Linked DNA regions of Homo sapiens: all the other regions are linked to region 1. Evidence: fine-mapped QTL for protein levels in blood plasma. A gene starts in region 1. Each other region holds a variant in brackets. All regions are shown on one strand. Distances are from middle to middle.

The links. A credible set is the group of variants that fine-mapping cannot tell apart. PIP is the chance, under the fine-mapping model, that this variant and not a neighbour inherited with it causes the effect. The UK Biobank Pharma Proteomics Project read protein levels with antibody pairs (Olink). The fine-mapping took linkage between variants from a reference panel, not from the people measured, so its PIPs are less certain.
Region 2: its variant is the best candidate, but not a certain one, in a credible set for the plasma level of the PXDNL protein (UK Biobank, PIP 0.78). The variant lies in the coding sequence of PXDNL. If it changes the protein, the assay may bind it differently, which can mimic a change of level.
Region 3: its variant is the best candidate, but not a certain one, in a credible set for the plasma level of the PXDNL protein (UK Biobank, PIP 0.89).
Region 4: its variant is the best candidate, but not a certain one, in a credible set for the plasma level of the PXDNL protein (UK Biobank, PIP 0.74). The variant lies in the coding sequence of PXDNL. If it changes the protein, the assay may bind it differently, which can mimic a change of level.

The regions. Positions count from the first base shown.
Region 1 is chr8:51,802,873-51,810,872 of GRCh38, forward strand. It overlaps PXDNL (peroxidasin like), which reads right to left and starts at 6,573. Exons shown (of 23, transcript NM_144651.5): 1 at 6,309-6,573. The coding sequence starts at 6,472. RefSeq lists enhancers at 5,946-6,468, 6,469-6,990.
Region 2 is chr8:51,449,175-51,457,174 of GRCh38, forward strand. PXDNL (peroxidasin like) reads right to left here. Exons shown (of 23, transcript NM_144651.5): 10 at 4,345-4,611. Among named protein-coding and RNA genes, the nearest start is that of PXDNL, 360 kb to the right of the region's middle. The variant A/G (reference allele first, on the strand shown) is at 4,566.
Region 3 is chr8:51,385,399-51,393,398 of GRCh38, forward strand. The region is part of intron 17 of PXDNL (peroxidasin like); the gene reads right to left. Among named protein-coding and RNA genes, the nearest start is that of PXDNL, 420 kb to the right of the region's middle. The variant C/T (reference allele first, on the strand shown) is at 3,373.
Region 4 is chr8:51,410,015-51,418,014 of GRCh38, forward strand. PXDNL (peroxidasin like) reads right to left here. Exons shown (of 23, transcript NM_144651.5): 15 at 3,136-3,244; 16 at 1,236-1,393. Among named protein-coding and RNA genes, the nearest start is that of PXDNL, 400 kb to the right of the region's middle. The variant G/A (reference allele first, on the strand shown) is at 3,222.

The DNA of each region.
Region 1 (8,000 bases):
TTTTTGATAAACATTTACATAACTTAAACCTACATCAACTTGAGTAAAGTTAACATTTCACTGAATAAAACAAAACTTTATAAACATTATTTGTGAAAGATGTCTAAGCAAAGGAATACATTTACAAAATAATGTAGTAGCTGAACATCCAGGTATCCTCAAAATTGTCCTAATGTTTCTCTCTCCCTTTGGGGCCAGAAGCATCAATGTCAGACCTATTCTGCACCTGGGTTAGAACATGTGCTGCAGCAACGAGGCTTCCAGAGGCCTTGGCTCACTGTGGGTTGGAGGCCTCCCATCTGTCCTGCTGGGTTCCCTGCCTCCCAGATAAGGAGGTCTGTGTCCTGACTGTTGATCTAGACAGGAAGCTCTCAGTTACTTGCTTATATCAATATCTCAGCGAGTATCTCTCTTTGGAAACTGCGAGGTCCAGTAGAAAACCTTTCCATTTCTCAGCTCTCACATCCTTCCTCTTCCCACACTACTCTCATTCCCTTTGCCTACCACACAAAAAAACTCTCCCTGTCCTTCATAAAAACAAACAGACCAACATAAACAACAAAATTCACTTGACCCTGTCCCTCTCTTCCAACTTCTTAGAGGTGGAATTTGCACTCTGCCACCTCGAGCTCTGACAGATGTGGCCCCCATCCTCTCTCTTGAAGAACAAACGATACTGTCTTCTGGGCTCCTCCTGAGTCTTCGGTAGATGTGTTCCTCTGTCTCTTCCCTCCTTTTCCTCCAGGACCACAGTGTTGCACAGCTGCAAGGGGGGCACATTTCCCAGCACACTTTGGAGTTGTGCAGTACACAGCCTACACAACCACTGGTGACCGTCCTGGCTTTTGTTCTTCTTTGTGTTTACTTGACCGTGGAGCATTCCAGAATTCTAGCCTATGTGGCCTTTTCCCATTCTTCCCTCTGGGAAATCTCATTTCTTCTGTTCAACCTAATTAATGTACACCGTTAGCCCAATGACTTTCAGAACTGCATGTTTTGCCTCTATCTCCCTCCTGAGCTTATATATTTCTGAGCCCCTACCCCTTCTACCAGAATGCCCATGTAAAACACAACAAAATTCAACAATGTATGAACCTCAAATATCCAAGACAGGTCTCAGTTAATTTAGAAAGTTTATTTTGCCAAGGTTGAGGACACACTCCCATGACACAGCCTCAGGAGGTCCTGATGACATGATAGAGCACAATTCGGTTTTATACATTTTAGGGAGACATGAGACATCAATCAGTTTATGTAAGATGAATATTGATTTGGTCTGGAAGGTGGGACAACTTGAAGCAAAGGAGGACAACTTGAAGTGGGGAGGGGGCTTCTAGGTCATACATAGATAAGAAACAAATGGTTACATTCTTTTGAGTTTCTGATTAGCCTCTCCAAAGGAGGCAATCGGATACAGATATATCTCAGTGAGCAGAGGGGTGACTTTGAGTAGAACGGGAGGAAGGTTGGCCCTAAGCAGTTCCTAGCTTGACCTTTCCCTTTAGCTTAGTGATTTTTGGGGACCCAAGATTTATTTTGCTTTCACACTCTCCATGATTCAATTTTTTTTCTCCTCTTTTTCACTCATTTCACTGTCTTTGTTGCCCATCTAGTTGACAAACGAGGACATTCACCATCCCTTTTTACTCCATAAATACAGAAGCAGAATTGGTCCTTCTAACACCAGACTTGTACTGTCATTCAACTTTTCCCATGTGCAGTAGCTCTCCAACTAGCACAGGGACCACAGCTTTGCTGCCTCAGGTTGCGGCTACTCCCCACAAAGCTACTATTCCATAACACATCCCTTCACTTCATTTATAGAATCTACAGTAGGGTTGAAAGGCAGCACTTAGTGTAGGGAACACTGTTCTAATACTTTAATCAGCATATACCATCTAAGTACAGGCTGTTGTAGGATATCCTGGCTCCACTGACCTTCTAAAACAATTTGTCTGTCCATTTGTTTCTTGAAGGATGACTCCCAAGTCTCCAGGGTACATTATACCCCAGCCAGTGGTGCTGGCCTTTACTCCTCTACCTCCTCAAGCTGTCACCTCCACATTGTCCCTATGTCCATTCTCCTGCTTGGGCTCCATCCACACTCACCTGCCCTTCCTTCCAGAACAGCCTCTTCCAGCCCCTCTCCACAGAACCACACTGGCCTGAGTCAGGAGGTCAGTGACAGCCCACTTTCAGTTTCATTTCTCTCCCCAACAAGTCAACCACTGGGGGAAGTTTGAATGTTGACACACTTCATCTGGGTCCCACTGTGCTTCCCCTCAACAATGCCAGGTGGGGGAAGGTCCAAAAAGTTCAGGCCTGTTCATTACTGCCAAGTGGTCATTCAAAGCCAGTAAGTTATGTCGGTTACAAACAAGCTACAAAAAATTTTGTAACAAAGGTAAAAGTAAGCCCTATTAAGTTGTATTTTATATATACATATATATATTTTAAATTATACAATTTTATATATAAAACTTTATATATAATTTAAATTATAAAATTATGTTTGCTGCCTCAGATTGCAGCTACTCCCTATTATTCCATAACACATCATTTTATGTATATATACAAAATGATATATATATTATATATATATAAAATGAATGGAAATTGGAAGAGCTGAAGGAATTCTATTTTCTTCTTGAACAAGGTGAAATTTTTTATCAGCTGGACACACTTTTTCATGACTGAGCATAAGACATTTTCCATTTCCCCACCCCCATCTTGTTCCTCAAGTTTTCTATTATTTGGACAGCAAAGAAAGCTTTCCACATAAAGAAAATGTCTTTAAATTAAATGTTTAGAATTTCACATTGTAAATACTTTTGTATTTATGACTTTTAGGAAAATCCTCGATCATTAAAACAGCCCTAAGCTTAAAACTTTTTCTAATCAAGGTGGTTTTTAGAGCATGTTCAATTTGCAGTCACTGAGTCCATTTCTTAACCAGTAACTAAGGAAATTAGGAAAGTACAACCTAATGACCCTGGAATAGGATGGAGTCAAATCACACTCACCATACACTGCTTCTGATTACTGAACAGGCTCCCTAAAGATGCTGTGTTCATTACTGGACATTTTTTTGTTTGCAAATTCTAATTCTGAAAGATTTGTTTTACTAAAATCCACGGCACAAAGAGTGAGATTTTCTCAATGGCAGCAGGCTTTTTGGTAAATGATATTAGTTTAGAAACACAATATCTTTATAGTCAGAATGAAATTAAAATTTGGAGGGACAGTTTTGCATTTTTCTAAACTTAAAACCCTGATCAACTGTAACCAATCTTAAAAATAATACAGTTTTCTTATCTATGATTTAGGAAAATATTTTCTGCATTCAGGCTAAAATTTTAAAACATGTAAAAATGGAAAAAATTAAGGAAATTTTAACACTACTACTAATAAGCATTTACTAAGCATGTTGGCCATTTGCAGAGCTAAATATATTATTTACATCATTTCCATGTTATAATGACAATAAACATACATAAGGGCGGTTTAACAAAAACTATTGGTTCTGCTGCTGGGGAGAAATTCATTCAGCTTCCATTTGCCTTAGTTTTCAAAAACTAATTGGCTTTTTCCCATAATTGTTATTGTCATCTTTCATGATATTGCTGACATAAAATGCAATCCTACATCAAGGATTTTTAGCCCCAGAGGAGTAGAGGAGCAATTTTTACAGGCTTTACATATACTTCTCAGCTTTTATACCATTTCTCTACTAGAAGTCACAAACTGAAGGTCCTAGGCAAAAAGCAACCTACAAATATGCATGGTTGGGCTTGTATATTTTTGCCTTTCCATTTCTAAAAATGTAATTAGCTGCTAATATTGAAAAGCTAGGGAATGTCACTTTTGGCTTCCATATTTTCTTGAAACTATGGCCCAAATCCCCAAAGGCCATCAATTAGCTAAGTAACTGGCTGCCCCATTAGCAAGAGCTGCCTCTGCCTTCATTACCATCCCCACACACTCCAAGCTTCAGGCTAGTTGCTATTCATCACACAGTAGTCTGCCTTTCATCTACCCCACTTCCCTCAAATTGTTTACTGGCAGGTTCCCAGAGATATTTAGGTTTGTAATTCCTGTCCTGAATTGCAAACATGATACTAATAGTGAAAACTTCCATAGTGTTTACTAGAGCTAAGCAATTTTCTAGGTACTTAAAATGCATTAATTCATTAAATCTTCAAGATAACCAATAGGGTGAAGAGTGCATCAGTCTGTTTTCACACACTGTGATAAAGAAATACCTGAAACTGGGTAATTTACAAAGAAAAGAGGTTTAATTGGTTCATGGTTCTGCAGGCTGTACAAGAAGTACAGCAACTTTTGCTTGGCTTCTGGGGAGGCCTCAGGAAACTTACAATCATCGCAGAAGGCAAAGGGGGAGTGAGAACTTCACATGGCCAGAGCAAGAGGAAGAGAGACGCAAGAAGAGCTATATACTTTTAAACAACCTGATCTTGTGATACCTCACTCTCGCCATGACAACACCAAGGGAGGTGGTGTTAAACCATGAGAATCCGCCCCCACTATCCAATCACCTCCCACTGCACCCCACCTCCAACATTGGGAGTTACAATTGAACATGAGATTTGGGTGGGGACACAGATCCAAACCATATCAAACACTGTTAGCATCTCCATTTTTACAGATTAGGAAACTGTGACACCAAGAAGTTAAGAATTTGTCCAAGGCAACACATTTTGTAAGTGGTGGCACCAGACTCCCAGACAGGAATCTAGCCAAGGGCCTGAGAATCCACCATTAAGCTTTATTTTTAAACATAGTGGAAGGCTCTGCATGACAACACTGACAACATCACTTCAGTTCTGCTCATTACATTTAGAGGTGTGTGTCTAATGCAAGCTAATCTCTTCTTTGAAACACCTAGGAAACAAAATTTAGGTCGAGTTGTACCTCATGTAGCTCCAAGATACTTCATTAGACAAGCAGCCCCTTCTCCAAGGCTTTGCTGCTATCTACCAAAAAACTGTCATTACAAAAGGACAAATGGCTGGTTCTGAGTCTGAAGGCACTTGCAGAACTGTGCTGTCCACATAGCAATAAGCAGTGCTCCCAAGTTCAAGAATCCTTTCAGTTATTACAGTAAGACGTATTTTGATATCTGCATGCATATAAAATTAATGAAATGCTTTATAGAAATGAAAATCTATGGATAATATGTCATTTTCTATGTAAATACCATCAAATTGGACTTTTTATTACCAAGTCCTCATTTCACGATTATGACTGACAAATGTGTGGCAATGATCCTCTTAAACATTTATATCTCAAAATTCCAGGAATTTTAAGCTATTTCCCTCTGCCCAAGAATGGACTTGAAACACTGCAAGCAGTTTTGTCTTCCATGAACATGACACAACCCACAAAATATTTATTATAGAGCAGGAAACCTCTTTAGTCTGCATCTTTCAGCATTTTTCCTTTTCTTCTTTTATTTTTTCTTAAATTTTTGAATTTGTCGTCTTTTTCTTTCTTTAAAAATAGACCCTAGAAACAGATCCTTTTCTTCTTTTGTGGTGATTTGCCCTTCTAATTATCTAATTATGACTTAATTTAATCTAAATAAATCTAAATGTTTGGGTTTATTATCTGAATATTAAAGATGAGAAGATAGGATTTGAACTCAGACCTGTTTGACTTCCAAATTCTGGTTTGCCCTACTATCCCGTAATGCCTCCTAGATGCCGATTAGTCTAAGCGGCTGCTCCACAAGGCTTTTAAGCATTCAAGAACTCTACTGGACCATTTGAGGGTCTGTTCTGGAGACAGACAGTGCTTCAAGTGCTGAGGGCTCAGGACTTCACCCTCCCAGGAGGTACACACAGTACAAAGCCTAACAATTTGTCAGCACATAATCAATTGAAACCACACTCTAAAGTTAAATTAGTTCCTTCCAAATGGGGCAGACACGTGCTGACCAATTAAGAGGCCCAAAGACTTGGGAGTAGAGGATGAATAGGAATAAATTGAGAAAGTATGCAGGAAAATTATTGAAGGAAGAATGAAGACGAGAATTCTCAATGCTAAGTTCTGGAAGATGCTGGAAGAGAACTGAATCCAAAACAAATATATTTATGTCAACTCATCATTGCTTACATTTTCTAGTCTAACAGAGCAGAACCATGAAATTGTTTGAAAAGTGAAAAGCCTCTTCTAAGTATACAAGCAGGGAGAGCATTAGGAATCGTAAATTAAAAGGACACAGGTCCTAGCAGAGAAGCAATGAAGCATTGGGGAAGAGGGTTTCTGGGGAATTTATGTGAACTTACAGAACTGTGGTCTGCTGTGGTACCTGAGGAATGTGGTCCAGCATCAAGTGCATGCAGCGGACGGTGCTCTTAAAGCAAAGGCACCGGCTGGGGCAGGGCAACCCTGGCAGGCACCACCCGGCCAGGAGAAAGAGAGTGGTCCAGCAGAACAGTCTGGGCTCCATCGCTCCATTCGCTGCTGGCCACGCGAAGAAGCAGCCGGAGGGAGAGCAGCAGCTGCAGCTGCAGCAGCAACCGCAGTGGTGGTGATGGTGGCTGCTGGACTGAGCCAAGTTTGGGAGCCGTGGTGGAAAGCAGCTCCCAGGGAAAGGACACCCCTCTGACCAATCCAGGAGGAGGGATATCACATTACAGGGCTGAGGGCACAAGCAGCTCTAGGAAGCACTAGACTCCCAGAGGCGAGGACGAGAAGCTTTTCAATGCAAAAGCCTCTTTCTAAAACACCGTGTTTTAGGCAGCATAATGCAAACAAACTTTTCCAAAATTACTTCCACTGCGCATTTGATGAAAAACCCGACCTCTTAGCCTCCAGCTGTCCTCTTGAAGCCCAAGTTGATTAAGAATGTATTGAAACAATGCAGAACAGCTTTTCTTCTTTTTTATCTGGTAACATTACCAAACCCTAAAGGGCAGGCAGAGTTCTAATTCGTTCATCTAGGTGCACATATTCTTTCTTTATTCCAAACTATGCTCTTTAATAAAAATTGTTTCATTTCCTTCTATATATTCTGCTGCTGAAACCCAACACATTTCACTCATGTAAGACTCAAACGGGCTACTTCTGATTTCTTCTTTTAACGTTTAAATTTATATGCTTAAAACCATGAACTCACATACCTCCTTCAAGAGGATACAACTGATGGACAAACCTAAGTATGTATATGTAAAGTCAAACAGATGCAAGCTCCCTCAGGACACACTGGCAGCAGTGGTCTTGCTGGTTGCAGACTTTTCATCAGCAGTTTGAACTGGCCATCTTTCCCTGAAGTGAGCAGCACCTCGTTGAGGACGTGTCTGAAAACTTAATAAATATGAAAACATCTACTTTTTGGTCATTCTGTAAGCAGGTATTTTTAAACAGATTTTTGGCTTTATCTTTAAAGACTAACATTTTCAAACAAAAATGTTTTAAATCCATAAAAGTAATAGAAAACAAATTAAAACTTGCATGGTCAATCCCAGATGATCAGACTAGTAGACCAATCTTAAGAGGAAAATAAGTTCATCCTTGTCTCTGCAGAAATGTTTCAGTCCCTTTACATTCTACTGTAGGCGAATACTGCCCTCTTTTGGCAAAATGTTCATATCTAAATATGTGATTTTGGGGAGATTAAAATGTAAAAAGATCTAAAAAACAAAACTAATCTCCATGAACAAGAATGATTTATTTTAAACTTTACATTTGACATTGTTCACATGACTTTTATTGTCCAAGTATACCAATAAAGCCAAAAAACGAAATTTATTCCTTTAAATCCCAACAATCACTATGCTCTTGGCAGTGCCTGTGATTTGGAGGACATAGACAAGACCTGCAGGTTTGTGCCTTGTTTGCAGTTCAAAATATAAAATACAAAAAATATAAATAATATAAAATATATAAAATACAAAAATATAAAAATATCTTGCATTCATAAAGTAGACTTAAAAAGGGTAGGGACTCAGAAATATGTAAGTTCAGGAGGGAGAAAA
Region 2 (8,000 bases), 350 kb before region 1:
CAATAGAAAAAAGAAAATGTCTTCAAATATGTCATGTGATCAGAATTTGTTTACAATTATATATAAACAAGGTTATAAAGAGTGTGGAGGTGCTTCTGTATGTTTGTGCCTGTTTGCAAGGAAGCCAGAAATACACACATCTGGTCTGCAAAGCAAAACAGCAGTAGCCAACAAGAAGAAACCATTTCTAAATCTTACGGCAGCTGTTTCCCATGATTGAATCATATTGGTTATCATTTTAGTAGATGTGATAAACATATTTAAAGCTACAAATTGTACTTTAAACTATTAACAAAACCGTCTTCTCCAAACTTTCACATGCACAATAAAATTTGAAACGAGTTGATCTTTCGATTTCAGAAAGAAAAATAAGCTCCTTAAGATTAATGTTCCTGCAACACTTGAAATTATACTTTTGAAAAAGTCATATTTATGTCAAAATTCAGAGTTCCAAATATTCAGATTTTGTATTATTGCTTTTGTATAAATAAGAAATAGCTAATAGCTGCATATGCCATTCCTGAAAAGGGATTCTGTCCGTGACTCTTTGATTGAATAAAAAAATAAATCAATGTGGCCATTTAAGAAGAGCGCAATGATCCCCAGTAACGCCTAAGTGATCAAAAGAACTTTCGCAGATGACTTTGTAACTGGAAAGGTGTCCCAATCCAGATCCCAAAAAAGGATTCTTGGACTTTGTGCAAAAAAGAATATGAGGCAAATCCATACAGTAAAGTGAAAGCAGGTTTATTAGGAAAGTAAAGGAATCAAGAATGGCTACTCCACAGGCAGAGAAGCAGTATAGGCTGCTGGGCTGAGTATACTTACAGTTATTTCTCGATTATGTGCTAAACATGGGGTGGATTATTTACGAGTTTTCTGGAAAGCGGTGGGCAATTCCCAGCACTTAGAGTTCCTCCCCATTTTAGACCATAAAAGGCAACTTCCTGACATTGCCATGGCATTTGTAAACTGTCCTGGTGCTGGTAGGAGTGTTTTGTAACATGCTAATGCATTATAATTAGCATAAAATGAGCAGTGAGAACAACCAGGGGTCACTGTCATCGCCATCTTGCTTTTGGCAGGTTTTTGCCAGCTCCTTTACTGCATCATGTTTTATCAGCAGGGTCTTTGTGCCCTGTATATTGTGCCAACCTCCTATCTCATCCTGTGACTAAAAATACTAAACCTGCTAGGAATCCAGCCCAGCAGGTCTCATCCTCATTTTACCCAGCCCTCATTCAAGATGGAGTCACTCTGGTTCAAATGCCTTTAACAACTTGACAAATCATTTCTCTGCCTTGTTAGATTTTTGCACAATTCCTACTACCCCCTTCTTTTCACCTGCATCTGGAAATACAAGAAACATGATAAAGTAAATAATATTTGGCAAAGTGTATTTGTTGCAAGTTTCATACTGTGTGCAAGTACTAAAGAGTTTTTTAAAGTCTTCATCCATTCTAAGTAAGGTGCTGGACTAAATATGGTATAAAATAAATTTCCAAGTCACACAAATTCATGGAAACCCTCAGGAATGCCTGCAAGCTATTTGTAATAGAGTTCTAGAAAAGTCAAGCTGGAAAACAGCCCACAAATCAGCAATCTCAGGCTCCTCACTGCACAGATGAGAAAATTCAGACTCTGGGAGGTAGGATTGAATTTCTCTCGGTCAGAACTAATAAGTAGAAAAGATAGTAGAGAATCTGGGCCGCTCAACCCCCAGCCTGATGTTCTTTCCAGAACATTACACTAACTCCCAAAATTACTAGGAACAACTTAAAAAGAACAAAAATATTTCTACATTAAAAAATAGATTCATGACACAGTAAAAGAGCTATATAACAAAAGATGGTAGTAGTTAAGAGAAATAATGTAGTCCTGGTTCTAGTGTTGGGAAATTTGATTTCAACTTTTGAATAATAATAACTTTAATAATTATTAACATATTAAAATTTAATTTTATTTTAATTATTAAAAATATTAACATTTAATAACTTTAATAATAATTAAAGTTCACGGTTAGCCAAGTCTGTGTGAAAAGAATTGTTAAACTTCACGTGTTCTCACTTTTAACAGAACCCAAGATCCACATCTTAGCAAAGCATAGAAAACATTTAAGAAAATAGTCAATTTACATTTGTTTCTAACACTAAAATGAGCAGCTTGCTAGGTCGATGAAGAAATTATGAACATCACCAAAGCAGGCAGAGAAGGTGGAATAATTAGACAGGAATGATGAAGCTGACATCTTTGGGCTTTCCATTTAAAATGATGGCCTTCTGAGTCCCACCTCCAGTGCTAAAATAGCACATGCCGAGATGAAGTGTTTTGCTATTTTATTAAAATCTAAAATTCTGGCTACTCATTAAGGTGCTGCCTCACACACAAAGCATTTTGACTTACACTGTTGATGACCATAGGCCTTTTTACCTATATGTCCACACTGTGATTCATATCTTTCATTGAAGCTTTTTTGTGTCATTTTATTTGTGTTATTTTATTTTAGTCAGTCTAAAAAAGGAAGTTTATCTGTGGATAACTGTGATCTCAGTTTAAATAGACATTAAAAGATCAAGAACATGGATAGAAACCTGTTAAAATGACACAAAAGGATACATCTTAAAATGTTTCATCTATGATTAGGCAAATAAAATCAGCCTTTTAAATAAATGTATAGAATGATTAATGGACCGTTTCAAAATCAATTAAAAATCTGGGCACACAGATCCAAAAGTGACACAAGTAGATGGTCACAAATAACAAAGGACAAGCAGATGGCCATTTCAGTGCAAACTCACTGGCAACAAGAAATCATTAGCATATTGTGGTAGAAGAAATAGGCAGGATGGTAAAGGTTACCAGAGTTCTGTTAAGCAATGACTGACGCAGATGGGCAGATGGAAGCATAGAAAGGAAGTACATGGAAAAAGCTGAGAAACAAAAGCCTAGCACAGTGTGGAATACAGGCAACCACTAAAGTGTGAAAGTGATCAGGCGTTAGGTTTCTAAAAAACAGACATTGAACACAAAATGATGTAAGCAAAACAAAACCCAAACACAGTTTCTTTGAAGGTATTTTTCAATCTCAACATATTAAAAGTTTAAAAATAACGTTTGGGTCCTTTAAAAGTAATTTCCCCCAGAAGTTACCAAAGACCTCAAGAAAATATTTCATTTCTGTGCCTTCTTATTAGAGCAAGGAAAGTATTTTTGGGATATTAGCAGTTCTAGGGAAAAACACAATTTTTTTTCCTGAGACATGTAAATAGGAATAAGAAAGTATTGATCTATTGCTATTAAAGGAGTTGATGCTAAACAGTTCAATTTAGAAAACATTCTCTGAATGCAGGAAGACTAGGCTGGAGGAAGCCTTGTGCTTTGTGGGGGCCAAGATCACTCTTGGGGCCACTGGGGCTCACTGTTCTGAAGCCCTCCCAACCCAGGCACTGCACTAGGCTGGCCACTTCCCTTTTTCTCTGTTCTGTGTTTCACACGGTTCAGTGTTTTGGTAGATAACATCCTATGCAAATCTTAAAATAATGAAACTTAACTCAATCAAAATATGCACATATCAGGAAGCCCCTAAAACGGATCATGTAAATTACCGTACTCTCATCAACTGATGAAAAACTAGTTTAGAAAAAACTGGACCTTTGATATGACTCCAATAGCACTTATATTCTGCTGTTTACTAAACTCTAACCCTACAGGAAGATGGCATGCAGGCACACATGCACACACACACAAACGCACACACACAAACACACACACACACACACACATGCACGCACACACACCAGAAAGGGGCCACCCCAGGCTGAGAACCAAAGTACAAAGAAGAATGTGCCTTCTTTATAACACGATTGCATGCCCATGCATATAAATTAATTTCTGGATTCAGAATAGTTTTACTATTGCTGTTGTTACGCAGTCTGGCCTCGTAGGAGCCTTCAGCATGTCCTCAAGCTCTGTTGAGTAGACAGTTTGGTAAGTGACTATGAACACAGGGCACAGCCTTTTCACTTTCATATCTGTACTGTCTTTCCTGTATCTGTGAAATATTCTGAAGCACAAATATCTCTTGACAGTTTCCTTCCAGATTAATGACTCCATCTCTTTTGTTGCTAATGGTTGAGTCTGACCTTTGGATAAAGATTGAAGTAGGAAAGAAAAAAAACAACTTTTAACTTGAAACAGATTAGCTTTGAAAATCTTATTGTGTCAAAAAATAATTGGCAAATAAAAATATTTCTCCACTGATGTACATGACATTATTTAAGTTGAAAAATAATTTTCTGAGTGTGGCAGGAGGAACATTTCAATCATGACCTTCTGCTCCCATACCTTGTACAATTATGTTTGCTGCAGCTTGAACAGTGCCGTGGCTATTGTTGGCATGACAGGTAAATCGACCATGATCCCGTTGTGTGATGTTCTGTAAGTAAAGTCCACTGGACGTTGCCACGTGCCTGGATCCATCCAGCTCCAATCCATTGTCCCTGGTCCAAGTGATAAGAGGGTGTGGGTGGCCTGTGGCCATACATTCCAAAGTTGTGCTGGTGCCA[A/G]TTAAAACCTCTGTGTCCTGAGGCTGGATTACAAAGCTTGGTTTGGCTGATGGTAAAGGGGGAACAAAACGAAATCCAGCAAGTAGCAGTTAGGAAGATTTATTTATTCTGCATTGTGGTTTTAAGATTATTGTCATTTTCAAAATTCCTTTAAACTAAAATATTACACATATATATATATACACATTTAATTCCCAGAAAATTAAATCTAAAATAATGAAATGTGGATTTGCTGTAAGTACATACTTTTTTAAAAAGATTGCTTGCCTTGATATCACGATGTGTTATAGATACTGCAAAGCACCTACACAATACATATTCCTTATTTTAGGGGTTAAATGTTTAAACATTCCTTCTTAAGAATACTCACATTTTTTTAAACACAGTTTAGGCACATGTCACTGGGAATAAATAAAAGTGCTAAGTTTAAGTAGTCATTTCTTCCTCCTGTTTGCTACCTGGAATTCGGGCAGGAATGCCTTTGGGTTACAGGAGCCACTTTGTGATTAAGAGGTGAAAATTATGAGGAATAAAGAAACCTATGTGCAAAGCAGATCAAAAAGCAGAAAGAAGAATATTATTGGCTCACTATAGGTAATGTGGCAGCTCTGTGACAGATTACCCTTGTCCTACTTGTGGCATACAATTAAAATATGCACAGACACAAACACACACACATAGAAGCTATGCATTTAAGCCATATCTAGCCAAGCTTTCAGTTACTTTCAGCTAAACGTATTATAAATTGATTCATCAAGTATACATGTAAATAGAAAATTTAGACTTTCATATAAGGAGTTCCACTCTTACAAATTCATAGGAGTTTCTCTTTTCTGGGAATCTCAAGCAAAAATTAAATATTTGCTAAGGTGTTAAAAATGCCTAATGATTGATTCTAAGTTTGGGGAAGGGGGATCAACCATTCCTGAGATGAACATATTCTGGAAAGTGGAAATAAATTAAATTAATCCAATTCAACAATAAATGTTTAATTTAATTCCTAACAATATCGAATGTCTTAAGTATATTAGTAACATACTGGATGTTGGAAAGATACAGAGATGAACAAACACACTCCTCCTTGTGTGCTCCTACTCTAGCTGCATGAACAGAGGACAGAACACATCATCTGTAAAACCACAACATGCCTCGGAAAGAATTGTCTCAGAGTTAGGTGTAAATGTGATAGGAGAACATTCTGGCAAGAGGTAAGGGAAAAATTAGCCGGGCGCGGTGGCGGGCGCCTGTAGTCCCAGCTACTCGGGAGGCTGAGGCAGGAGAATGGCGTGAACCCGGGAAGCGGAGCTTGCAGTGAGCCGAGATTGCGCCACTGCAGTCCGCAGTCCGGCCTGGGCGACAGAGCGAGACTCCGTCTCAAAAAAAAAAAAAAAAAAGAGGTAAGGGAAAGTATAGGGAAAGTTATTATAATAATTGAAATAAATGTTCCGAGGTAAGTCAGTGGCAGTAGAACTGGAAAAGGAGATAATCTGATGCATGCATGGAACTAAATTTTTAGAGAATTGTGGAAGAAGGAGTAGCACTAGAGGGTGAATCAGAGGTTACTGGAGGAGAGTAATGATACCAATAGAGATAGCAAACACAGGATGCTGTGGGTTTGTGTGGGCAAATGTGTTTGACAGATGTAAAGATTTACATGTGAAGATAAAAACAAAGTCCTGGCAATGTCCATTGAAATCTCAGGAAGGATCTCAGCAATAAAGACTATAAATTTTACATGAAGTATGAAAGCTGAAGGTTTGGGAAGAGCTCAGATGGAAGAGGAAAAAAATGTGATTAGGGCACGGGGGACTAGAGAAAGGGAGGGGAGGACAGCGCTATAAGGAACACCACATTTTAGGCAGGCAAAAGAGATTTAAAAAGAGAATTGAGGACATTAGGAAAGGATCAAGAGGAAGTCGTGTTCTCAAAGTAGAAATGCTCCTGTGTGCAGGGTCAGACTTGACCTAGAGGCAGAAGGGAAGGAGGCTTTGGAAGGAGACAGTGGTGTTTCAATCAGAAATTACTTGGTGTAATCCCAGCACTTTGGGAGGCCTAGGCAGGAGGATCACTTAAGGACAGGAGTTTCAGTCTGCAGTGAGCTATGATCATGCCACTGCACTCCAGCCTGGGTGACAGAGTGAGACCTTGTCTCTACAAACATTTTTTTAAATAAATTACTTGGAAACTATGTGAGGAATTATCATATTCAATCAATCGCTAACTCAAGTGTCTTTTTTTCCTGGAAAACCTCTTGATTCACTGCAATTTCCTCCATTCACTTTGCCACTACCCTATCCATGCCACCACCAACTCTCTTCTGCCCTGTGGCAATTGCCGCTGCTGACTTCCTCATCCTGACATGCCTATCTTACCATGCCCTCCTGTTTGTTCTCTGAACTGCCACCAGAGACATTTTTCTAAAAGAAAAATCTAATTTTAATCATCTCAGTGTAGCGTCATGAATACCCTGAGTGATCTGACCCCACTTTATACCTCACCAAATCTCGTGTCATTCCCAGCCTCTCCTCTGTATGCTCCAGGATCTCCATCTCTTGAATGTGCCTTGCTCTGTCTTCCCTATGCTGTCTTTTCTCCTGAAATGATGCTTCAACCCTACTTCTCTGGCTCTCTCCCACTTGTTGTTGCTTTCAACTTAAAGGTCAATGCTCTTGGGAAGACCTGAATGAATGCAATCCTCCGAGGCTGCTGCTTCAAGTGCTCCCCTCCACTGGGATGGGCTGGAGCCGGCTCTGGAGAGCCAGTTGTCAAATTTTCAGTATTCTGCAAGCTGACTGCTACACAAAGCCATTCTTAAAATTTTAACTAAATAAACTTACAATCAAATAAATTTTATTAGCATCAAAACTAACAAATTCATCCCTATTTTTTACTACATTTTATTATTATCTTCGGTCTCAGGGTTATTATGCCTACTGTGTCTGCACGCTAGAAGTGCTATATTATGATGAACTTCTGTGCATCTCTTCCCAACTCCACATTCAGTGATATCATTTCGGTAACTAGGAATTGGCCATGGTGAGATTATTTATAGAACAGATACTGACAAATGCTGCAAATCAGGGCTCCCTGCTCCTCAGAGCCAATTTACAAACATTTACCAGCACACAACTGTCCTTTATGCTTCTCTCCCTCTCCTTACACATCATAAAACTTATTTCTTGAATTATGGCTATCATCTAATAGATGATGGGCTCAGTAAGGTGAGAGACAATGTATTTCCACCATGTCAACATGCTATTAATGAAAATTTGTTGCAGTCATTATGTCTGGTTTATATAAGCCACTGAAATTATGACAAAGCAAAGCCCCTGGAAAGTTGAATAAGGAACGTGGTTGATAACCATGCAATCTTCAACAGCTAGCTCAGTGGGCATTCAATAAATATGTGTTGGATTAATTCATGATGAATGAATG
Region 3 (8,000 bases), 420 kb before region 1:
AAGATTAGTTAGCATACATTCTGGGGTAAGTAATCTACAGTAATAAATCATGCTTTTAATTTCTGATTGAGAAATTAAAGATTAACTTTCCATTCAATCCACATATTCCTAAGGATTCCCTGAGTTTTCTAGCCACCAATCTAGACTAAAAAACGACTAATTAACAGCCCCTGATTTAAAGAGCATAGGCCAGTCAGAAGGCATAAACAGATATTTAAAACATAAACTACGTTTTTATACCATGTGATATGGTTTGGCTGTGTCCTTGCCCAAATCTCATCTTGAATTGTAGCTCCCATAATTCCCATGTGTTGTGGAGGGGATCTGGTGGAAGATAACTGAATCATAGGGTGGTTTCCCCATACTGTTCTCCTGGTACTGAGTAAGTCTCACAAGAGCTAATGGTTTTATAAGGGGTTTCTCCTTTCACTTGGCTCTCATTCTCTCTTGCCTGCCACCAGGTAAGACATGCCTTTCACCTTCCACCATGATTGTGAGGCCTCCCAGCCGAGTGGAACTGTAAGTTCATTAAACCTCTTTTTCTTTATAAATTACCCAATCTCCAGTATGTGTTTATCAAGCAGCATGAAAATGGACTAATAGACCATGGTATTGATATAAAAGCAGATAACGAATAAAAGAATAGCTCTCCATTGGTGGAATTCAAGACATTTAACAGAAATGTTGGGTGATTCATTCTTTTTTTTTTTTGACATAAGACTCTTGCTCTGTCACCCAGGCTAGAGTGCAGTGGCGTGATCTCAGCTCACCACAACCTCTGCCTCCCAGGTTCAAGCAATTCTTCTGCCTCAGCCTCCGGAGTAGCTGGGACTACAGGCACGTGCCACCATGCCCGGCTAATTTTTGTATTTTTAGTAGAGATGGGGTTTCACCATATCGGCCAGGCTGGTCTCGAACTCCTGACCTCGTGATCCGCCTGCCTCGGCCTCCCAAAGTGCTGGGATTACAGGCGTGAGCCACTGTGCCCGGCCAGGTGATTTATTCTAAGCTTCAGAAATCACACCCCTATGTCATGATACTGGCAGTAGTAAGATAGATAGATGACTGATAGAAAAAGAGATAAAGATAGATACAGAGAGATGACAGAGAATTAGAAGCAAGTGATAGATGACTGATAAAGAGAGGTAGAGATGATATAGATAGATAAGAGATAAAGAGAGATAATAGAAATAGATAATATATATATAGGTAGTTAAGTGGATAAATAGATGATAGATGGAAACGTCGTCTCTACTAAAAATACAAAAATTAGCCAAGCATGGTGGCACGCACCTGTAGTCCCAGCTACTAGGGAGGCTGAGGCAGAAAAATTGCTTGAACCCAGGAGGTGGAGGTTGTAGTGAGCCAAGATAGCACCACTGCACTCCAGCCTGAGTGACAGATGACAGAGCAAGACTTCATCTTGAAAAAAAAAAAAAGAAAGAGTCTTTTCTACATGTCAGCCAAGTGACAAGCATTTTATTTCTATTATTCTATTTAATCAACTGTATACACTTGATTTATAAATTTCATTTATGTCCTCAAAACTGCAAAACTATTTTGGCTTGATGCTCTGACTTTTTTTCCAGTCTTATGAAGTCCATTACGATGTGAGAGCTTCTCCACTCAAATCTGATTTCCCACTGTTCTACTCTTTCACAGTCAGAGATGAACTAAGCTTATCCTTCATTCAGCAAAGGAAGCCTATAGTTAAGACCTCCTCAACTGTCCACAACAAACCATGCCACTGCATAGATCTCATAATTACCACCCACTCTTACAATTCTCCCTTTTAGACAACATTCTAAACTGATGAAAATTATGCAGTTATAAAAATGAGCAGTCTTCATTTCGTTTCTCCAGCTCATAAGTCCCAATAGGGCCTGCTGCACTGAAATTTAAAAGCAATGTTAACTATGGTAATAGAGCCATGTTTTGTTTCCAGGTGGGCATGCTCCAGTGAGGGGCTATAAGGAGGTCTCATTTTGTATGCCAGGTCCCATCAAGTAGAGTAACTGCTGGCTGTCATGAGAGCCATGTCTAGAAGAAGTCAGAGATTGCCTCTATGTTCGGTAGGAAAAAATCCTGAGAGAGTTTAGTAGTGTTTGTCACAGATGCAGTAGGGGAGACTGGTCTCACAATTGCTAGATTTTTGCCGGTTCTAAGCCAGTGAGTGCTTCATCATTCACTACAGTATCAGTTGCATACCTTTTATTAAGGAAATAGGTGGAATAAAGTAGATATAATACATATTTATGAATTAACGTAATTACTAATTGAATGAATACATGAATATTACGGTAAAAAGATGTTTCTATTTCAAAACCGCTAAAAATGTTTTTGTTGTTTTTATTTTCACCTTAAATATGTTTTCAAGTTTTACCAAATGTCATTTTGGTATACTCTGAGATGACTGAATGGGTTTTATAACTGTATATTCTAATATAATGCCCTATATTGATACTAACTCAGTTTTATATTCTGGACTTATATTAATTATTCCTCCTTAATCATGTTGCACTATTCTTAAACTATTCATGATTTGACTGACAAGCATTTTTTAATGTTATTCCCTGTAAAAAATGACTTCAGGGTTAACATTACAGATCCTTTCTTAAGGTTTATACCAGAGGCATGCTAATTTCAGCTAATAAATCAAGTAGGTTATCATCTTTTTATATATTCCATAATACTGTATAATGTGCTCTTTAAAATTTGAAATATTTTGTCTAGCTAGAACTCAGAAACTATTAAAAGTAATTTTTCAATGATTTCAAATTGATGTAGGCTCTGTTTTGATATTGGCTTTCTTATTATTCGAAGACCAAATAGAAAATTATTCAATTACTATTATTTTCAAGCTATCTTTATAAAAACACAAACAGTAACTTCTTAGAAATCTGGTTTTTTTATGTTTTTGTAACTTAACTTTCAGTTTGGGAATATATTAATCAGTCTTTTTTTCAACTTTTTACTTTATTAACTTTCGCTTTTCTATTTATTCTTTCCAACTTGAGTTAGACACTTAATGTAAGTGAAAAATATCTGCTATGCTCATCCTGTGAGATTTTTGGTTGTTGATTACCATAATCTCGCATATCTAGACTGATACAGGTTTCAAATACATACATTCTACTTCCTAAGTGAGATGTTCTGCAGATGAGTACATTGGTACTGGTTCTGTTCATTAAATGTGAGGACTCAAGTCTTTCTTCAATTTTATAACTCTTCTATTGCTAACCCTTCAAACTGGGTCTCTCTCTCTCATTCCTGTTTTCTACCTCTTGGAACTTCTATAAATATTTGATGTTTTCAATCTTTTCTCCCTATCTCTAAATCTCCCTTATTATTTATTATTCTCATCTGTCTGTA[C/T]TACACACTGAGTGAATTCTTCAGATTTATCTTCCAGTTCACTATTTTTTTAATTCAGCTATTTCTAGTATGCTGTTTCACTAGCTACTGAGATCTTAATTTAAATTATATATATCATGTCTTGAAATTCAGTTTTTCAAATACCTGTATTTTTACCTTTTCCTTTTAACATGGTTTCTATTCATTCTCTTACTTAATTTAATGTTAAATGCACAGAGTCTCTCCTATTGTTTTAATCTCCCTAAGTTCCATTTTAATTTTGTTTTGTTTTGTTGCTTTTCATTTATTCTCATTGCTGACTATCTTGCAGCTACATATTTGCTGAAATGAATTTTAACTTGCATGTGTGAGAAGGAGAGAACTTCTTGGGAGTTTGGTTTGTCATTCCCGTGATTGTCTGTATGCACCAGGTCGTAAAAGAATGCCTAGAGAGTGATTTGACATGTGCTTGTGCGAGGATTTCAGGGGTTTCATGTGCCCCTGGGCTGTTTTTCATGTTAATTTATCTTCTTTTCTTTCCAGCACCATGATGTTTGAGTAAATTCAGATTCTTTTCCTGTGTAACACAGGCTGGGATTCGAATTTCAAAAATTTTCCTGTTTCATTTCAGCCTCGGTCCCTGATGTTTACTTGAGAAACCATATTGCTGCTTCCTCTTTCCTGATGGGAAGGCATTTTCTAGTTCCCTTCATCCTTGCAGAGATGAGGCAGGATTTCAGGCTTTCTGCAGAGAACTCTGTTTCAGGCCTCTGACTAGGTGGATTCTGTATCCCCTTACCCTGTGTGGGTACTAAAACCTCAACTTCTGATCCCTCAGAGCAATGTCTATGACTGATAATCATGGGCCAAGAAAGCACATTCATTCCTGATTTCTCCCTGGCTTTTAAGTTTCCTTGTCCTTTGTGACATATAAGAATTGCCCATTTGTTTGAGCTTCTTTATGTTTAAAGCCATTCTTTATAGTTTTACTTTTTGTTCAATGGTTCTATGTATTTTTTAGCAAAAAGGAAGCTCATTTTACTGAACTTATTATTTGCCAAGAAATTCTCAAACTGCCAGTGAAAAGAGGCTATTAGTCAAATGCCTTATAAAACACATCATTCTCTGTTTAAAGTAGCTTTTATGTCACATTTCCCCATAATGGAACAGGCAAGAAAAACAAAGAAAAGGTTTTAATATTATATATAGCACAAATGTTTATATATTTTAATTCATTTTCAATTATTATTTCAGGTAATTAAAAATACAAAATAAGCTAATGACTTCACTGGCTATGGAAGCCATGCCCCCCCCACCAAAAAAAAATTCCATTCTAGCTAAAAAATGTTATGAAGTACCAATCATTGTTAATGAGAAAATGAGGATATAGGCCAAACTATCCAAATGTTGCAAAGAACATCTGGCATTATGCAAAATGAAAGTAAATGTTGACTCAATTCACTCTTTAAAAACATTCTAAACTGATTCAAACTAGTTTTTGTCTGCCTTAGGCTCATAAGTATTTGCAAAGGAGAATATTTTAGAGCCATTTAAAAGCATTCAGTAAGTTTCCTGTGGCAACCAATGAATAATATGCCCAGGGAAGTGGAAACTCAGATAGATCATGCAATTTGCCTAAGATCACAAAGTTAATTACTAGGAACCCAAAAAAGCACCTAGGTAGTATTTTCAGCACATTTTCTGAAATTCTCCGCCTTCTCCATATTAATTCTGGATGAAATAAGTACAAATATTAATTCATAAATATCTTTATTATAATTTATAAAGCCTTTAAAATATTTTCTGGGTATTCTATAAATTTGCATGATAACAGTTATGGCTCTCTTCACACAAAAACATAAAGCACATTGACTGCTTTCCTCATTTCTAGCCAAGAAGTGATGTGGATTCAGGTTCTCTGAGGATCGCTATTTGTTTAATGAGGTGACAAGCCGACCTCACTAAATGGCATAAAGCACAGATTTTCTTTTTTTTTTATTTTATTATTATTATACTTTAAGTTTTAGGGTACATGTGCACAATGTGCAGGTTAGTTACATATGTATACATGTGCCATGCTGGTGTGCTGCACCCATTAACTCGTCATTTAGCATTAGGTATATGTCCTAATGCTATCCCTCCCCCCTCCTCCGACCCCACAACAGTCCCCAGAGTGTGATGTTCCCCTTCCTGTGTCCATGTGTTCTCACTGTTCAATTCCCACCTATGAGTGAGAACATGCGGTGTTTGGTTTTTTGTCCTTGCGATAGTTTACTGAGAATGATGATTTCCAATTTCATCCATGTCCTTACAAAGGACATGAACTCATCATTTGTTATGGCTGCATAGTATTCCATGGTGTATATGTGCCACATTTTCTTAATCCAGTCTATGTTGGACATTTGGGTTGGTTCCAAGTCTTTGATATTGTGAATAGTGCCGCAATAAACATATGTGTGCGTGTGTCTTTATAGCAGCATGATTTATAGTCCTTTGGGTATATACCCAGTAATGGGATGGCTGGGTCAAATGGTATTTCTAGTTCTAGATCCCTGAGGAATTGCCACACTGACTTCCACAATGGTTGAACTAGTTTACAGTCCCACCAACAGTGTAAAAGTGTTCCTATTTCTCCACATCCTCTCCAGCACCTGTTGTTTCCTGACTTTTTAATGATCGTCATTCTAACTGGTGTGAGATGGTATCTCATTGTGGTTTTGATTTGCATTTCTCTGATGGCAAGTGATGGTGAGCATTTTTTCATGTGTTTTTTGGCTACATAAATGTCTTCTTTTGAGAAGTGTCTGTTCGTGTCCTTCACCCACTTTTTGATGGGGTTGTTTGTTTTTTTCTTGTAAATTTGAGTTCATTGTAGATTCTGGATATTGGCCCTCTGTCAGATGAGCAGGTTGCGAAAATTTTCTCCCATTTTGTATGTTGCCTGTTCACTCTGATGGTAGTTTCTTTTGCTGTGCAGAAGCTCTTTAGTTTAATTAGATCCCATTTGTCAATTTTGGCTTTTGTTGCCATTGCTTTTGGTGTTTTAGACATGAAGTCCTTGCCCATGCCTATGTCCTGAATGGTAATGCCTAGGTTTTCTTCTAGGATTTTTATGGTTTTAGGTCTAATGTTTAAGTCTTTAATCCATCTTGAATTAATTTTTGTATAAGGTGTAAGGAAGGGATCCACTTTCAGCTTTCTACATATGACTAGCCAGTTTTCCCAGCACCATTTATGAAATAGGGAATCCTTTCCCCATTGCTTGTTTTTCTCAGGCTTGTCAAAGATCAGATAGTTGTAGATATGTGACGTTATTTCTAAGGGCTCTGTTCTGTTCCATTGATCTATATCTCTGTTTTGGTACCAGTACCATGCTGTTTTGGTTACTGTGGCCTTGTAGTATAGTTTGAAGTCAGGTAGTGTGATGCCTCCAGCTTTGTTCTTTTGGCTTAGGATTGACTTGGTGATGTGGGCTCTTTTTTGGTTCCATATGAACTTTAAAATAGTTTTTTCCACTTCTGTGAAGAAAGTCATTGGTAGCTTGATGGGGATGGCGTTGAATCTATAAATTACCTTGAGCAGTATGGCCATTTTCACGATATTGATTCTTCCTATCCATGAGCATGGAATGTTCTTCCATTTCTTTGTATCCTCTTTTATTTCATTGAGCAGTGGTTTATAGTTCTCCTTGAAGAGGTCCTTCACGTCCCTTGTAAGTTGGATTTCTAGGTATTTTATTCTCTTTGAAGCAATTGTGAATGGGAGTTCACTCATGATTTGGCTCTCTGTTTGTCTGTTATTGGTGTACAAGAATGTTTGTGATTTTTGTACATTGATTTTGTATCCTGAGACTTCACTGAAGTTGCTTATCAGCTTAAGGATATTTTGGGCTGAGACAATGGGGTTTTCTAGATATACAATCATGTCATCTGCAAACAGGAACAATTTGACTTCCTCTTTTCCTAATTGAATACCCTTTATTTCCTTCTCCTGCCTAATTGCCCTGGCCAGAACTTCCAACACTATGTTGAATAGGAGTGGTGAGAGAGGGCATACCTGTCTTGAAAGCACAGATTTTCAACAGCAACAGTGGTGCCATTTCTATTGTGAGGTTAGGAGAAATTGATTGGCATAAAAATTAATATCAAAATTCCTCAATTTTAATGTAAAGAGAAGATTAGAGAGTACACTATTGGGAGTAGTCTCACTTACAGCCATTTGAAAATATATTTCCTGAGCAAAAGAAAATACTGAGTTACATGTCACTGACCATGAATTTTACTTAATTTAAAGCCAGTCTCCTGTGTTTTCATTCTGAAGTATACATTTTATGTGAATGTCATGCCGCTCTGAAATGAAAAGGAAAGAATTGCTACCTATAGAAAGACAGGTTTCCACCTTTACTTAGAGAATGTTTTTTCTTTAATTTTCCTGAATTTTAATTTCCTAAATTTCCATAATTGGAGACCAATGCAGATTCACTTACACATGGCACTCAGATGTGTGCATAGACTTAGCATCCAGGCAGTCTGCTAAGTTCTTGACATACTTTAAATTATTTCATCTTCTCAGTAAACTGATGAGACACATACAATGATCGTCATATTCGGGATGAGAAGTATGAGACTAAGAACAAGTACAAAAGGCTC
Region 4 (8,000 bases), 390 kb before region 1:
TCCACATCCCAGAATTGTTTTGTTGATTTTTGTTTGTTTCATTTCAGAATTTTTTCTCTCAAGTTTTGTGCTTCTAGAGAACAAGGTCAAAGAAATATCAATATGGATCATGTGAATATTAACCCACATGATACTTGACAAGGAGGGATTAAGCAACAACTTTCTGAACTACTATAAGCTGTCATTCCCTGGCAAACGGGCAAAATAATAAGGGACATGCTTGGAGCTCTACCTTTTAACAGGGCTTAAACTTCCAGCATTCTCCCAGTGCTACAAAGATTGTTCACTAATCATACTAAAAGTTACCATCCTTATTTAATCTTCAGAAACTGGCAAGCAATAATGGGACCATTTGCACTTTATCCATGTTAGCCAGTCCCTGGCTGGATCCTGAGATATCTTAATCTTGGGTATCTGGATATTTTGCCTCAGGAAGCTTTGAAAACCCATCATACTGGGTGACCAGGGACAGTCAAATGCCAGTTAGTTAGAGAAATTGTACAGAGCTCTAAGGGCTGAGGCAAGCTCACAGATAGGCCTTCTGCACCACGTCTCGGTTGATTTCCTAAAGGAGAATAAAGAAAGGGTAAGCCAATAGAAATTGATGCTGTACTCACAGCACAAATAGTATATAGCAAAGAATCACATTCACTTATTTCATTTGAAAGAGAACAACTTAGAAAATCTGAAAGCTTTCTATATCATCTCATTTGACATCTACTAACTAGATGTCTGGTTTTAAAAAGAAATACACAAGAACTTGGATATACCAAAAAACAAAACAACAACAACAAAAAAACAAAAATCAAAAGAACTGGGGAGGTATTATAAATATTATAAGTGGTAGAAGAAATTTCAAGTAAATTCACTGAATGATTCAGGTGATTGAAAGGATAAGTGGAAGAATATCCCCCTGGTAATAAAGCATTTCTCTATAAGACACAATAATATCTTTTACATTTGAAACACAAGTTCACTTAATGTAGGTTCCCTAGATTTGTTCTCTATACATATAACTTAAAAGTTGAGACAAGTTTGAATATATATTTATCATCCTTACTTTGGAATTACAGTTCCTATGAGAAACATCTGCATTTATTTGGTAAAAGTAGTGAGTAAATTAATTTCTAAATCCCATGATATTCTGGAGATTAAAAGTTCAGTGTCCTTTGCTAAGGTGGTGGTCAGTTTTTCTGTGGGCAGTAGGCTGAGAATAAAATGGCTTTGTGGCTGACCTTTGCCTTCCAAGTCCACAGTGAGCCCCTGCTTCACACGTTCCCGTATCAGCTGCAGCGTGTGCTCAAAAATCTCCCCTGCTCTTGCCATTTCCACAATCAGTGGGTCACGCGGGTAATGAAATTGAGCCAGCAGGTCACTGGAGGTGTGAGGTTTTCTGCAAATGACAAAACACATGATTCTTTACAAGGCAAAACAGCAGAGTCCATGAAGCTTGCAAATACTGTGCATTTAAAAAGGCATTTCCCAAACATTCGAGAAGAATGAAAGCTCCACCACTACAATAGAGGCTCTACAGAGGAGCTGTGGGTTCTTTTCCTATTTTGCTAACAACTTATTCCAAATGTTAGTCCCAGTGCTGAACTCAAAAATATATATTTTTAATGAATGGATGATTTAAACAATAGTTTTAGGAAACAACATCTATGGTGGGGTTCTAAACTGGGGGGGTCGGTTGATGAATGGATTATAGGAGGCTCAGTAAACCTTCTGAAGTACTATGCAATACTCTCGGTCTGCAGGACTTGGCATTTTGTGTCTTCTCTTTCCCTGAGTGTAATCTCCTAGAAATTCCTCCTTGCCTTTAGAATCCTCCTCAGGCCTCACTCTCCCTGTAGAGTTTCACTGAGAGCTCTGACAAGCTATCACTCCATCTTCTCTAGTACTCCTGTATCCTTAAATATGTGTCTTATATACTCAGTAAAATGTACTTGAATTGCTGACATATTGTCTCCTCTGCTAAAGAAAGAACTAGGTTGCTGATGAGATGTTGACCTATTATTTATCTTGTATCCCAAATACCAAGCCCACTGACCAGCACATAATAGCAGTTTATGCACATTTGTAGAACTGAACCAAATATGTTAAAAAGAAATTTAAAAGCACTGAGAATGTGAAGCAAACTGTTTTAGAGACTTTGATCAACTGAGGCACATCTCATCCTCTATGTCTTGAATCTTAACTACTTGAGGTCACAGAATAATAATAATGATGCTAATAGTTCACTTTGGTTAAGCACTTTCTATTCTCCAGGCACTGTTGAAGCACTTTTTACATATTATCTTATTTTTTCTTCCTAGCAAGCACATCCATGAAGTAGATCCTACTGTTATCCCAACTTTAGAGAGCAAGGAGCCTGAGGTACAAAGATGTTAAGTCACTTGCTCAAGGTCACCCAGACAGAAAGTAATGAAGTGAGGAATCAGGAAGAGAATATAAATCTAAATCGGCTGCGTGGTTCTAGAACACACATGCATGATCACAAAGCCATTCTATTTATGGATGTGCAGGAAGCCAGAAGAGACTCAATTTGGGATTTTACGATGTCCCTTTTTGACCACTAACTGCAAATACTGAATATATACTTTATCCGATTATGATGAAATCAACAATCATTTTTTTGTTAATGCATCCTGATGTTACAAACACAGAGAAGTTAATGGGATTGGAAGGTTTCACTAGTCCATGAACATTCCAATTCAAATTAAAATAATGTAAAATGCCAAATATCCTAAACATAATGTTTGTCGTAGGCTCCCAGTTTATACCAAGGTGTGTTCAACTTGATAATCATTCTCAATTCACACATTGCAGGAGCACTGCATCTGACACTGTTTGGTGGATGCTGAGGTAACCCAGCCCATTGCCTAGTGTCTATTGTCAGCCTGTATAGCATGGACCTTTGGCATAAATTAATGCCATTTAGATTCTATGGGGAAGAAGTTTCCCCTTTTTTAGGGTGAACTGATAATGATGGCTAGCCCAGATGGGGATGCATACACAAGGACTAAAGAAAGCACTCTATTGCATATGCACTATAATGTGACTTATGGAGATGATAAAAACTAAGTAGAACAGAAATGAAAACAAGGTTTCAATCTGTGTAAAATAAATTCTTACTGTGAAAACAAATGTCTTCGTGTGGAGTTAATTGCACTGTCAACTCTCTGTACAGCATCAAGAATGGAAGATTCAACAAAGTCATC[G/A]CCAGCTTGTCTACCCTGTATAGCTTTGAAAATCAATTCCATGATTAAAAATATCAAACAGACCTTGAAGTTAGGCATGATATTATATGAATGGCATTACATTTTTAAATGTAATGCCATTACATTTAAAACCTCTAAGACAATGAAAATGTTATACAATATCTACATGATAATGCCCATTGCAGAGAGGTAGGTAATTATCTTGAAGCAAGGCTTCATCTAACAATAATAATGTTATTTAGGGAATTAAAGTATTCCAAAATCTAGTAAAGCTATGTAAAATATTTCCTTTTGAACAATGCTGATTCACACAGGATCCAAGTATGTCAGCAATTTGTCATCTTGGAGAAGGTATGAAATACCTATCTCTTCAGCCACCTTGCTTTAATGTTAAACATTAAAGCAAAGTAAATATTCTCCCATCCCATAGAGGCTTCTTAAGGCAAGAATTGAACTCTCAATAAGATTTATGGGAAAATTAATTTATGCTTTTTTTATAGCTCTCTAACATGTGAAAATACTGCAAAGTTGAATCCTGTAGACAAAGGAAGCTATTTACTTACAGCTGATCATTTCCAGGCTATTGAATCTTCTTCAAATAATGGTTTAAGAAGTTTAACAGTAAAGGAACAAATACTAAATAAAAATAATTACGAATGAATATTTACAGTTCATATCAGAGAAATAATCAGCACAGTATCTAGTTCATTTTTGAGATACTAAAAGTACAGTAACATTTTATGTGACACAGGCAATGAAAACAATAACTTTTTGGCACTGCTAAATATTGAAAGCAAAAGTCAATATAGCTTTAAATGTTGAGTTTGAAAATAATGTCATTTAGGGGAAGTAAAAGTGATTAAAAACTTGAATAGTAATAGGAAGGTATTGTATGTATTATCCAAAAGAACTCCCAATGAAGTAACTAATATAAGCTTAAGTCAAGGTGTTACCACAATATAGTATGATAGATATATACATATTATATGTATATATCTATATATGTGTTTCTATACATATTTAAGCATATATATTTGACAATAGATGGGCCCATATAGCATTCTCCATCTAGATATTACAGGAAAATTCCTGTATATTATGACCATCTATATAGCCTAGATTTTATTGTCTTAAAAAGACCACCAACATAAAATAATTTTAAGAAAAAAAATACCAATGGTATGGAAATATTGTAAGGAAAGAATAAAATTCAGGACCATACTGAAAATTCTTCTTGGCAAACTAGATTATGTGCAGCAATTCTGAGTAAGTAGGGTGGCTCCACTGTCAAGTCATTGCAGCCTTTATGATGACCACAAGATTGAGGCTCTAAATGGCCAATGTTGCCTTTCCTAGTCCAAAAAATACATGGGATTGATTTAGCTAAAGATAATTGAAAGAAAAAAAGACAAAAATTGATTAATTCAATTGGATGAAATTAACAATTTCAAGAACATGAACAAAATAACTAATAAATGACACAAATAGCTGACAATATTTGCAATCTCAAACTCTGAGGCAGAAATGATATTCTGTTTCATACAAAGAAACGTTATAATACACTAAGAAACAAATATATAGGCAAGTTATAAAAGAGGAAAGCTCAAAAGTTAATAAGGATATAACATGCTCAAAATCACTTGTAACCTCAGAAATGAAAAAGTGTCAATGAACTACCATTTTATGCTTATTCTAGCAAAAAATAAAAAGCTGATTAAAGCCAAATTTTGACAGGAGTGAGAGTTCCTATAAATCCTCAGGCAGACTGATAGGACTGTGGAATTGACACCTATTTTGGGGATTGTATTTAGAGCCTTCTTTGGCGGGGGGGAGATGGCAGTTGTTACTTTGTAATATTGCATATGCACACATCCTCTCATCCAGTAATTTCAATCCCATGCATATATGCAGAAAAATTATAATTGAAATCCACAAGGGTATGTATGAGAATGTTTATTGCAACTTTGTGCAGTAGGAATTGTAGAAAATTGGTTGTACAACAGTGGAAGTATGGGTGTATTAGTCTGTTCTCGCATTGCTATAAAGAACTACCTGAGACTGTGTAATTTACAAAGAAAAGAGGTTTAATTGGCTTACAGTTCCTCGGGCTGTACAGGAAGGATCACTGGGGAGGCCTTAGGAAGCTTACAGTAGTGGTAGATGAAGAGGAAGGAAGCACATGTTACATGGCTGGAACAGGAGAGAGAGCAAAGGGAGAGAGGCTACACAATTTTAAACAACCAGATCTCATGAGAATTCACTCATTATCACAAGAACAGCAAGAGGGAAACTCACCCCAATCACCTCCCACCAGGCCCCTCCTCCAACACTGGGGATTACAACTGGACATGAGATATGGACAGGGACACAAATCTAAACCATACCAGTGTGCAAGGAAAATGTGGTGGATGTTCAACGTGGAATGTCATGCAACAGTTAGAATTGTCTGGGCATACATGGATGGACACTTAAAAGATGCTTAAGGTAAAAATTCGAAAACTAGAAAGAGATAACCATAAAATGATCGAATTAAAATATATAATACTTAGATGTAGTATAGTTGTTACATATATAGCAATGATGATGAAAGCAGAGTATGGACATAAAAGGTAATGAATTAATTAGTTAACCAATTGAGGAATCAATCAATATAATTACTGTGATTATAAGAAAACAATACTATAAACATAGCTACATTAGTCTGCTTATGTGTTCAAAAAAAGTCAGTAGGAATGAGCCTACTTAATTTACTTTTATCTTAGAAATAAAGAAACTAAAATCAATCAAATCAATCTGCACTGGCATGTATGACTTGATTATTTAATCAACATATTAGCTTTTTCTTTGTCCCTTTTACTCCTTCACTTTTGGACCTCAAATATAGAAAGCAGCATTAATTACATGCTTCTGTTTGTGACAAGTATTGTCATTGGGCTACTGCATCTGGGACAAAATATGTTATCAAAGGTCTACGTGGATTTGGAAGTAAGAAGATTGTGTGCTAGGACTGAGTTACCGTACAGGACATAGTGCTATTGAGATGCCAAAACTTAAAAGGCTATTCACAATGGTGGACAGAAGTTGATATAAAGTATAAATTTCAGGAAACCATCATTTAATATGTGAATGTGAATTGGATTGATGTTTTTGCTTTTATTCTGTTTATAAAATTGTTTTGCTGTTATAGTTGTATAAGATTTACAAGCATAGGGATTTTGCAGCACTTGTCTTCATCTGTTAGCTCATCCATTAAATGGAGAGAGAAAGCCTTGCTCAGCACAGAGCTCAGGGCTGATGTGTTTATCAGATAGCAAAGATACGCAAAATTCTTTTAAAACTGCATGTTGCAATGCACATATAAGGTGGCTTTCACGATTAATGTGTTTTAAAACCTATAGGCAATCTGTATCCTCACATGATTATCAATTGATACTGTGTTATACTGTCAATATGATTTGCTATTTATTTATATGAATCAGAAGTCAACCAGTGTGTAAAAGTGAAAAGGAGAAGAAAATTTTAAAAATGGAATTGTATGCAAATATTTTTTGAAATATTTAAGCTCTAAACTACACAAATAGAAAACACATAAAGTTGTTCAGATTCTTAAAAGCACATTAAATACGTGATATAGTCAAACAAAAACATTCTTGATAATAAAGCTTTCTCGTTTTTATGTCAGTTATGATTTTTTAAGTTTATGTGGTTTAAGAGTAAACTAAAACTAACTCTTTTATTATTCATTTGATTTCAGTGTTGTTTTGTTTGATTTGGTACAAACTGCAAAAATATTTTTATAAATTTCTTTAGAACAGCACTGTGTTATGTAAGCAAATCCAATGTGTTGGGGACACATTAGAATTAATCAATACTGTTGTAGTTATTTGTCTCAAAAATCATCTCAGTTAATGGCTTAAGGAATAGAACAATCAGAAAATTCTGAGCATATTCTCCATCTTTTTATGCAAAATTTTACAGGAGTAGAGGGACAACTAGATCATTTTTCTTTGTTAAGTCTCAGGGTAATAAAAATGAGAAAAAGGCTTCAGTATATTTACAAAATAAACATGTTTAAAGTTATTGATGCACATCTATTTGCAATCCTATCCCTGCATCTATGAGGCTATCACTACTATTGATGGTAAAATCCAATGGTAATATTGAGTCCTTTCAGAAAAGGGGGAGCTTAGGCCACGTGGCCACTCACTGCTCTGCATGAAAGGCCTGGCTCTGGGTGACTTGGGGACTGGACCTAGAGATGGGATGCAGAAACAAAACAGCTGTGCTCCTCTGTCACCCTTGCTAAAAAATGCCTAGACCTCAATAAAGGCTGAGATTTTTTCACAATTACCAATTGGGTTTTGAGTATTTTTTATCCTCCCCCTTTTTCCCCCTGGGGAAGAAAATTAGCAGATAATGTAACTATCGTAACCAAATAGGTCTTATCATACTCAGTCTTTCCCTATAAAGAGTGATGCTAAAACTGACACATGTGAGGGCTGTCCCAGGACACCAGAGACAGGTCCACATTACCATACACACTGATGGTAATGACTGCCTTTATGAAATCATTTTGTTTAAACAGCAGAGAATCTGTCTTACTCATCACTTTGCATCATTAAACATGGAAACCAATTCATTGCCCTGGAGAGCTCCACTGTTTTTTCAGAGACTGGAAAAGGAAAGGCACCATCTACTTTGTTTAAGGTTATGGTGCTTAGATTAAGACGTTTTATTTGTTTTCTTTATAATGTTTAAACTATTCAAACACTACAACAC